2 separate regions of the Homo sapiens genome follow, and region 1 is linked to region 2. Evidence: fine-mapped expression QTL. A gene starts in region 2. The other region holds a variant in brackets. All regions are shown on one strand. Distances are between the middles of the regions.

The links. PIP is the estimated chance that this variant, and not a neighbour inherited with it, causes the effect. A credible set is the group of variants that fine-mapping cannot tell apart.
Region 1: its variant is the best candidate, but not a certain one, in a credible set for the expression of TGM1 in substantia nigra (GTEx, PIP 0.81).

Annotation. Positions count from the first base shown.
Region 1 is chr14:23,833,936-23,839,309 of GRCh38, reverse strand. LINC00596 (long intergenic non-protein coding RNA 596) reads left to right here. Exons shown (of 4, transcript XR_429343.4): 4 at 1-587. Among named protein-coding and RNA genes, the nearest start is that of LINC00596, 66 kb to the left of the region's middle. The variant T/C (reference allele first, on the strand shown) is at 3,009.
Region 2 is chr14:24,260,484-24,265,836 of GRCh38, reverse strand. It overlaps TGM1 (transglutaminase 1), which reads left to right and starts at 2,660. Exons shown (of 15, transcript NM_000359.3): 1 at 2,660-2,748; 2 at 3,483-3,803; 3 at 3,954-4,142; 4 at 5,139-5,353. The coding sequence starts at 3,485. RABGGTA (Rab geranylgeranyltransferase subunit alpha) reads left to right here. Exons shown (of 17, transcript NM_182836.3): 17 at 74-299. The coding sequence ends at 222. RefSeq lists an enhancer at 2,177-2,185 and promoters at 155-2,672, 1,055-2,721, 3,282-3,477, 1,732-3,485, 485-3,485.

The sequences.
Region 1 (5,374 bases), 430 kb after region 2:
TTGTGAATTGAAGTAAATCACGTGAGAATCACTGACCTGACCTAAGAAAAGTTTGGATTTCTGTGAAACAGTATTCTACCACTCCTAAAGAAATATGCATTTGGCTGCAGTTTTCCACTTTTCACATAGGGGAGTGAGCTTTCTCTTGTTTGAACAACCATCAAGAACTGGGATATTATCTCATTTCAGGTGAAAATAGTATTCATGTATGCTTATCACAAATTCAGTATTCAGGGTTCAGTATTTGCACAGAGGAAAAGTAAGCATAAGTTTTAGATGAAAGACATAAATTTTATTATTTATTTTTAACTTCAAAAATATTATTTTCTATGCACATATGGACCTATAAAAGAGATCAAGAAATTAATACATGTATATAATACATTTATAACTGCTAGACCTTTATTTGAGTCTGATCATGTTACTCAGTGAGAAACTTTTTTTTCTAAGTCTTAATAAGATGTCTTACACTATATTTTTATTTATATTGCTTTGGCTTGTGATTAATTGCTTTGCTATTCAATACTGGCAAAATTTTTTATACAGTAAATAACATTAATTAAAATAAATTTATAACTTATTTAAATAAATCTATCAAGATGACCTTTCACAAATTCAATTCCTTTTGGTTTAAGACAGTTATTTAAGGGAAATGTATTATGTTTGTCTTAAGAATTTTTTAAATTTATGAAAAAGAAGGAAAGATTAATTTCAAGAAAGGTTATCCAGTCTTGGAGCTACCTGATTATATTCAAGACAGATTGGCTTAAAAAATTTGTTAGCTTTAAATAGCAGAAATAACTACTCTTGCATGTATCATATACCATGTCCCATACCTCATCAGCATGTCTTATACTATAAATAAAACTTTGAAGTCTATTTGGATAAGATTTTTTGAAAATCAGGTAGGAATTTATTAAAAGGAAAAACTGAGATCTTCTCACCTACATTACTGACTTGCAGTAGAGGGGTTATTCTTTGTGGGGTGGAGGGTAGGGGGACCACACAAAAAGAGCAGGCTGATAAATTGGCTACAGTAAATAGATCCATAGGAAAATATCAGTCCTTATAAAAAATTATTTTGGTCATCTTCCCTGGTCAGAACTTGGACAGAGCTCGTGAAACCTTTGTAATTTCCCAAGTGATAAAGGTGCTAGGAGCATATTTTGTTCTAATGAGGTGACTCTTGCTGGGTTCCTTAATGAAGCCTGGTCACCAGGAAGATCAAGGCATGGTTAGAGACTTGGAACTCTCTCTCATCCCCCATCAACAGGTAGGGGAGAGGAACTAGAGATTGAGTTTATAATTGATCATGCTTATGTGACAAAGCCCCCCCAAAAAATCTCTAAAAGACAGGATTCAGAGAGCATCCAGGTTGGTGAACACATCCTATGTGCTAGGAGGGGGTTGCATTCCAACTCCATGGGGACAGAAATTCTGTATTCAGGACCCCTCCAGAGCTCTCTCTATATATCTCTTCATCTGGCTGTTTATCTGTGTCCTTTATAATATCCTTAATAATAAACTGGTAAACATCTTCCCCTGAGTTCTGTGAGCCATCATAGCAAATCATCAAAACTGAGGAGGGAGTCGTGAGAACCCTCCATTTGTAGCCAAGGCTGATAGAAGTGTGGGTAACCTGGGGATTCGCTACTTGAAATTGGCATCTGAAGTGGGGGCAGTCTTGTGGGACTGAGCCCTTAACCTGTGGCATCTGCACCAACTCCAGGTAGTTGGTGTCACGGTTGAATTATAGGATGCCCAGTTGGTGTCCAGAGAGTAGGAGAATTGGTTGGTATCAGGAAAACTCCCACACATTTGGTCACAGAAGTGCTGAAAGTGTTGCATGTCATAGAGAAATGCTTTCCTTTCCTCTTTACAGTAAACTGGGGAGAGAACAGAAGCAAAAAAGTTGCTTCTTTAAAAGCCATGGAAAGGAAAGGAATTTTAAGAAAAATAAAACTCTTAAATATAGCAAATGGGATGACAGCTGCTGTATACAAAATGACAAAATTAACAAAGTAATATACCCATTATGCGTACAGCAATTTGCAGTTATCAAAAAATTTTCATATATAATGCATGTGTGTGCATATATATGTATAGACTATGTAGACTATATAAATGTGTATGTGTATATAAATTCTCTTCCTGAAGATAGAATCAACTGGTTCTTTCCTGGGGCAAGAACACTGAGTTATAGCTTCAAGACCTGAGTCATATTACTATTTGCTCTGAATTTAAAAGTTAAAAAGTCAAACAAATTTGCAAGACTAGGTTCTAATGACAATTACTTTGTCAAGGATGCAAACCACTTTTCATTTCAAAAGCATATGCGGACTTAAAGCTTGTGAAAACCAGATAAAGGTAGGCATACTTTGGAAAGAAACTGCCTGGTATAGAGGGATTAATTGTTTCCACACATCTAAGCCTGACTCCAAAACTGGCAATGGAAGACTGTATCTTGCTAACAAGTCTTAGACATGTAGTACTTGAAAAAGAACAGGTAAGGCCAGGCGCAGTGGCTCATGCCTGTAATCCCAGCACTTTGGGAGGCCGAGGCAGGCGGATCACGAGGTCAAGAGATCCAGACAATTCTGGCCAACATGGTGAAACCCTGTCTCTACTAAAAGTACAAAACTTAGCTGGGCGTGGTGGCACTCGCCTGTAGTCCCAGTTACTTGGGAGGCTGAGGCAGGAGAATTGCTTGAACCTAGGAGGCGGAGGTTGCTTTGAGCCAAGATCGCGCTACTGTGCTCCTACCTGGCGACAGAGCGAGACTCCGTCTCAAAAAAAAAAAAAAAAAAAAAAAAAAAAAGAAAGAACAGGTATATTCTATACCAAGGTGTTTGGAATGGAGACCAGGAAAATGATAGGAACGAAAATATGTTCAGAGCAACCCAGGCTGAGACTGGGGAGGCACACTTGAAGACATGACGGGGCAAGAGGTTTCGTAGTTCACTTGGTTTCCCACCCATAGCTGCATTTAGACACTCTACTAACTTCAA[T/C]AGGCATGTTGGGCCAGGATGCAAAATTATTTGCCTTTTAGTTCACAATATTTTATCCGTTTCATAACACATATGGCTTAGAAGTTGAGAGTATGCGGCTTGAAGACAAATCTCAGTGCTAAGGAATAATAATTATAATAGGCCGGGCAGGTTATTTAACTTCTCTCTCTCTGATTGCTTCCTTACGTTTCAAGGGGGGATAGCACCACCCACCTCAGTGGGTTTGCATAAAGATAAAAACACCAAATGTGCCTTAGTTTGGTACTTAGAACATACTACAAAACACGGACCCATTAGTAATAAAAACAGCTGCTCTAGAACTCTCCTTAGGAGGAAAGAGCCGGGTTTTAACAGAGAACAAACATAAGCTGTGTTGCACAACCCCTTTCTCCAGCTGAATCTTCACTGTGTCTCCCTGGGTCCCAACACACAATCCTCGTGACCCCATAGGAGGCTCAAGGCATCTACAGAAGGCACATGTTAAGACAGAGATGTGATTATTTTTTAAGAGACTAAGAAACTCCAAATAATGAATGGCTATCTATCATGTGCAATGACTCTGGAGAAATATAAAATACGAACTCTGCCCTTAAGATATTGTCAGCCTGGTGGCAGTGGGAAGAGGTGCAGGGGAAACATTGAAATTTGGTTTGGAGAGACAGCCATGTAAAACCAAGTAGATGTATTTATAAGGCTTCCCTGAAGAAGGGATGCCTTTGCTGAGTCTGAGGGAAGAGTAGAACAATCCAGCGAATGAGAAGATGCAAGTATGAAATGCAAGAACATTGTTATGTTTATAGTAGAAGGAGCTTGTGAAGGCAAAGGGAAAAGAATCAGGAACAAATCAACAAAATCCCAGTGTGGGAAGGCAAGAAATGTACATTTTATCATCAAAGCCAATGGAAAGCCATGGTTGAATCTCCACAATGAGATGAACTTGATCAGCTTTTCACCTTGGAAAGGTTCCTCCAGCTTGGTTTCGAAGTAAGAGCAAAACAGAAGCTACAGCTACACTTCAGGCAAGACAGATGACCACTCCAACAAAATGCAGTGACTGAGGAATCAGGAGAAGATCAACTAAAAGCTAGCAGATATCATATTAGCAGGCCTTGGTGACAATTGGGTATGGAAGAAGTGAGAAGGATCTTGGCTGACTGCGGTTTCTGGCTTAGACAACTGAATGGATAGTGGGCCCATATGTTAACATAGAAAATGCAAGGAAAGGACCAGAGTTCCTGGGAGCTGATGTGCACAGTCCATAGTGACTCATAGAGGTCCACGTGCACTGTGGCAGTAAGCAAAGCTGTGAAAGACGCCCTGCGTGATGGACAGAATGTGATTTGGTGTCTTTCAGAAGGAGTCTCGGTCCTGGTTTGGGGCTTTGATGACTCAACAAAGTGAAGTCTGGAAAGAGGGCAGGGAGACCTCCTGGTGTGTCCTAGGGGGAGGAGAAAGGAAAGGATGCCCTGACTTAGAGAGGAGAGAGAACAGCAGCTGCCCAGACACCCCAGGACCTGCCCAATCTTGAGCTACTCCTGTTGCTGGGATTCCTTCTGTGCCCTAGACAAAGCAACTGGGACTCACCATAAAGGTAAGAAGATTGTATGTTGAATATTTTATATAAATAGATCTATAGAGATACAGAGATATGAATAGATATTCTTCCAAAAATACCATAGGCCTGAGACAGGTGTCCCATCCCTTGGGCAAGAGAATGTTATAGAACAGTATATATGCAAAGACTTTCCAAGATGTAAGTAGCCATATATATATATTTTTAATCAATTTCTTCATTAGTATGAAAGATTCAGAAAGGCAAATTTATAAAATTTATAGAGACAAAATAGATAAAGGTTGTCTGGGCCTGGGGCTAGGAAGAGGGATCAACTGTAAAGGGCATGAGGGGTTTTACTGGAGCCATGAAAGTGTTCTACAACTCACCGAATGTGATGGTTGCACAACTTGGTAAAGTTACAAAAATCATTGAATTGCAGACTTAAATTTTATGATATGTAAAATGTATGTCAATAAAATTATTTCTTAAAAAAGAAATAAATTTTCAGATCTTCAACTTCCATGTGTGGTCTTTCCTAAATATGATTTGCCTGAGAAAGCACCTGTTCTTGCTTATGTAAAATTCACTTTGCTAGCTCCCCTTTTAGTTGGCCTACTCAAAAAGGAAGAGAGTCATATTCTTTTCCTATCCTTATTTTTACTATGGTAAAAATGGAGTGTTGAGTGAAGAAACCTTCAAGCTGCCAACAGTAAGACCATCCTAAATATTGTTACTGAGATGTCTCCTTTAATGACTCATGCCTTATGGCTTGTTATCTTTCTCTTTTTTACTTAATTTGGTGAAGAGTATA
Region 2 (5,353 bases):
AGCTCTTGAGGGTACACAGGAGCAAATAAATTGGGAGGAACCTGCCAAGCTTTCCTTGACTCTCCTGAACAAGGCCTCCAGCAGCCTGCAGTGCTCCAGCCTCTTGCCTCCTGCCCCAGGCTGGTCCTCCTCAACCTGCAGGGTAACCCGCTGTGCCAAGCGGTGGGCATCTTGGAGCAACTGGCTGAACTGCTGCCTTCAGTTAGCAGCGTCCTCACCTAAGAGGCCCTGCCCCCTACCCTTGCCCTTTAACTTATTGGGACTGAATAAAGAATGGAGAGGCCCTCTCAGGCTACCAAGCTGTTGTCGCTGCTATCACTACACCACCACCTTCATCACTTTTATTTTTTGAAAAGAAAGGGAAGAGACATGGGGTGTTGCCAGCTCCTTCTTTCTGCGCCATCCTATTGTTTCCTCTCAGAGAGAGCCAAGGCTTCAGTGTTTGGGGCAGAATTCAGGGTGAAGGCTGAGCTTTTGTTTACCTTCTGGTTTGGGGTGGGGGCTGGGACTGGGTCTAGATTCCAAGCAGGAATAGGGCTTGGGCTCAGGTTCTGGCTCTGGTAAGCTACAGAGCAGCTGTGAGTTTCTCCAGCTGGAAGCATCATACAATTTTTTCCCATGACCCCTGCACCTTCCACATGTTCCCCCTGCCCTGGCCCCCATTCACCATAGCTGGGGAGGCTCAAGGGCTCCACGTTCCCAGGAATGGGCCAGGGTGTCCTTGCTCCGTCCTGCCTGAACAACACTATCGGTCCCCATGAGTAGCATTCTACGGTTGAAGTACCTTTGAGAATACTTGATACCATTTGATCCTCACAGAGTCTCAGGGATGAGATTTTTAGGCCCAGTGTACTGATGAGGAAACTGCTGTTGAGACTTGCCCAAGGTTCTTGGCCGGAGCGCTTCAGCACTGAAACCAAAGTTGTCTCTACCCTTGGTCTAGGATTCTAGACTCATGTTCTTGCTTCTGTATTGCTAAGGAATGGTTGGGCAGCGGCCTGGCCTCAGCTCCTTGAGGTCCTGAGCTGAGTGTCTGCTCCCATGGTGTCCCCCCACACATACCATGTACACACCTTGTCCTGACCTAGAGAGTCCTGAGTGGTGGTGGGGGGAGGGGACTGGCTCAGGGGTTAGGGCACTGACTCAAACCTGGCTGGGTGGGGAGAGAAAGATTGATTAAAGCTAGGGAGAGAGTGTGACAAAGGCATCCTACTGGTTCTCTGGGATCTGCCTGGGCCCACATGTGCTCACACACGTCCGGACAGCCAGGGCCCTGCCCCTTCCCGTATCTGCAGTGATGCACAAATCCGCAGCCCCTGCACAAAGCCCTCTGGCTGACCTGCCTGGAAGTTTATATCCACTGGTGTGTCTACTGAGGGTGTTGGAGGTGGGGCACCTGCCCCCACCCCCGGGCAGGTTCTGGTGCTTGGAGCTGGACAAGAAAAGGCAGTGTGGGTGTGGAGGGCTCCCTGCCAGTTCCTGGGGCCTCTCTGTCCCCACTCCCCACGGCACCTCCCTGCCTGATGCATCACCAAACAGCCCCTCCTGGATTCTGTTTCCTTGTGTCTTCTTGTCGGCCTGTTTTTACTGTCTTCTGCTAGGCGGCCCATGGGCAGAGCTGGGACACTAGTGGGAAGGAAGGAAAGAAGGAAGAAGGCCCTGGCTGACGGGCCTGAGGACAAGACCCAAGGAGAGCCTCCCTGAAGATGCCTAGCCTCCTCCTCTCTACCTTGGGATCGCCTTGGTGCCATCCTCAGTGTTTCCCCAGTGACGGGGTGGAGTAAGGATGCACACAGCACAGGTGCCTGAGCCGGTTGGTCTGGATTCCCAGGAAGAATTCCAGGTTGGAGAAAAGGGAATCCTCTAGTCCAACTGAGCAGAGACTCCTCTCAGTGAGAGAAAGGTACTCTGTACCCCTGGAAGGGGGACTCAGTTCCCACCCAAGCCTGAGTGGAAAGGCCTAAACATCCCCTAACCCCCGAGGCTACAGCGGGGGTGGGGGACGTGAAATGAGATTGCTCCTACTCTGATCTCCCTAATCCCAAACTTGAGGGCAGCTCACTCATGCCTGGGGCTGTAGAGCAGCTGAGAAAGAAGGGACAGACTTGGGGGTGGAGGGAGTCAGAATATCTGGTAGAGCCAGCAGGTCAGGGGTTAGCTGGTGGAGCCAGTCTGAGGGCCTGGCTGCTGATGTCACCAGTCTGCAACCTGGGATCCCAGGACCTCCCTGGGCAGGATGAGTTCCAGGACCAGGCCCCTGGGCCAATTTCATAGGGCTGAGCCTGGCTTGGGCTGCACAGAACTCGGCAGCAGGAGCCTGTGAGAGCAGAGGTAGGCAGCCTAAGCTTGGGACCAGAAGGTCGGCCAGACAGGGCTGTGGGTGGAAGGGCCTGCCTGCCCCACTGCCCTTGCAGCTTCTTCATCCGGGAGAAGGGGCTCCTCACATGCCCAGTCTGGTAGGAATCAGCCTGGTGCCAGGGGCCATCACAGCGGTGGCTCCCACCAAAGCCCAGCCTAAGCCCCCAGACCTCACCCCTGCTCCCTCCCTAGCATCTTCTCCCCATTTCCCGCCCAGAGGCCTGGCCTCTTCTCTCCGCCCCCTACAGCAGTTTGGCCCCTCCCTCCCACATAAGTCACTTACCAGGTCTGTCCCTGCGGCATCCAGTCTGTGGGTCCTGTCCCATCCATCCTGACCTGTTCCATCTCAGCCCCAGGACTCAGTACTGCGGTTGCCAACACTGCTGCCAGGTGAGGGGCTCCCACGGGTACTGTGGTGCCGAGTCCAGGCGGCCCACACTATCAGAGGCCGTGCCTGGATCCAGCAAGGTGGGGTGTGGGCCAGCTGTGTACCTGTCAGCCCCAGCTAGGCTGTTCCCAACACCAAGACTCTGCTTTCCCTGTGCACAGGCTCCGGGCACCTGCCATGCCCTACCCCTCCTGGCAGCCCCAAGTGGGGTCTTCCCTGACTTGGGAATGCCAAGGACCACAGGCCCCGGGGTCACTTGTCTGTCTTGTGAGGAACCTTGAGTTGGGGGATTTCTGCTAAGAAATGAGTTCTAGAAGCTGTCAGTGTTGTGCACCTCTAGACTGCAGAGCTAGCAGGTGGACGGACCAGGCCCAGGGATGCTGGAGCACTCTGATGTGTGTGCAGCTGGGTCTTGAGGCTGGGACAAGTGTCCATGCAGGGAACTATGTGGATTTCCTGGGATGGATCGTTGAGTGGGTTTCTTCATTGGGCAGTTTTTCGGATGTTGTTTGGTGGGGGTGAGGGGAAGGCTTTTCTCTGCAGCATGAGAAGCTTCTCTGGGTGAGTCTGAATGGTCTTCGCGGAAGGTCTCTGGATGTGTCTGGAGAATCTCTGGGCCAAGGTGGGATTGTTTCGGTCATCGGGTGGGACTGAATCAGCTGTCTGGATGGAGGGTTTCTGGGTCAACTGGCTGGGACTACCTGGGTTAAGGAGCCACCCTGCCTCTTCCTAACAGGCATGATGGATGGGCCACGTTCCGATGTGGGCCGTTGGGGTGGCAACCCCTTGCAGCCCCCTACCACGCCATCTCCAGAGCCAGAGCCAGAGCCAGACGGACGCTCTCGCAGAGGAGGAGGCCGTTCCTTCTGGGCTCGCTGCTGTGGCTGCTGTTCATGCCGAAATGCGGCAGATGACGACTGGGGACCTGAACCCTCTGACTCCAGGGGTCGAGGGTCCAGCTCTGGCACTCGAAGACCTGGCTCCCGGGGCTCAGACTCCCGCCGGCCTGTATCCCGGGGCAGCGGTGTCAATGCAGCTGGAGATGGCACCATCCGAGGTGAGGCCGGTCTGTCCTCCTCAGCTGAGAGCTAAAAGGCTTTAATGGGACCAGAGACTCAGCCTGGCATTTCTGGGGGGGATAGGAAGCTAATGATAAGGGCCTGGGCTCCTCATGGGGCTTCACTGACACGGAGCTGTGTCCTTGCAGAGGGCATGCTAGTAGTGAACGGTGTGGACTTGCTGAGCTCGCGCTCGGACCAGAACCGCCGAGAGCACCACACAGACGAGTATGAGTACGACGAGCTGATAGTGCGCCGCGGGCAGCCTTTCCATATGCTCCTCCTCCTGTCCCGGACCTATGAATCCTCTGATCGCATCACCCTTGAGTTACTCATCGGTCAGTGGGGCTTGGATTGGGACGGGTGAAGGCCCTATGTTTGGTGGGGAGAGGCTGGCATTAGGGTCAGAGAGGTCTTTAGGCTCCTCCCTGCCCCACTCCTCACCTCTGCCAGATAAGGCAGGTGCAAGTGTGTGGGTGTGCCCCTGGGGTTGTGTCTCAGAGAGGGTCTTGGTGTTGCAGTTTTTCCCAAGCCCATCCTCCTCAAGCCTCCTGGGGCATCGGTCTCAGAGTACTCCTCTTCAGGGCCTGCCTCGGTGCCTCCTTCGGCATTGCTGCTCTGTCCTTTGTGCATCTGTTCTCATTCCCCAGGATGTGGCTGGTTCTCTCTTCTATCTCTCTCTCTCCCTCTTGCCTTCCATGTCCCCCATCTCTGCCAATTCTGTCTCTCTCTGTCTCTGTCCCTCTGTCCCCATGACCCAAGGCAGGTGCCTCCCTTACCGCGTTGCTTGGTGTAGCTTGACTTCTCAGGCTGGTGATTATGCTGCTGCCTGGGGCAGGTGACTCCTTTTACCCTTTGATTAGGGCCTAACCTTGCCCACCTCATCCTTTAATTTCCCAGGAACCCCTACCACCTCCACCAGGGATGCCCTGGGCTCTGGAAGCTGCAGCCCCAGGAAGCAGGCAGGGTTGGCCTTCAGGATCAGGACTGCCCTTTCATACGGGGCAGGTGGATCTGCCCCTCCAGCCCAGGCACTGTGATAGTCAGGCAGGCAGAAGGTGACAGGAGCCCTCGTCTCTCCTCCCCACCTCAGAGTTCAGTGTCAGGGGAACAGGTTTGGGATGTTGGACTGCGGCACTGCCCTAACATGTGGGCAAGCATTGGGTGGAGACAGAGCTGCTCTAAGGGAGACTGTCAGAGAATAAGGTGATGGCCCAACGTAGGGACATACACAGTGGCTCATACACATTGTGGGTGGGGCCGGGAGAAGTCCCAGGCTCCATCCCCTCTCCTCAGGGAGGCCTTGCCAGCTAATTGCTGATTTCCTACTCTAGGAAACAACCCCGAGGTGGGCAAGGGCACGCACGTGATCATCCCAGTGGGCAAGGGGGGCAGTGGAGGCTGGAAAGCCCAGGTGGTCAAGGCCAGTGGGCAGAATCTGAACCTGCGGGTCCACACTTCCCCCAACGCCATCATCGGCAAGTTTCAGTTCACAGTCCGCACACAATCAGACGCTGGGGAGTTCCAGTTGCCCTTTGACCCCCGCAAT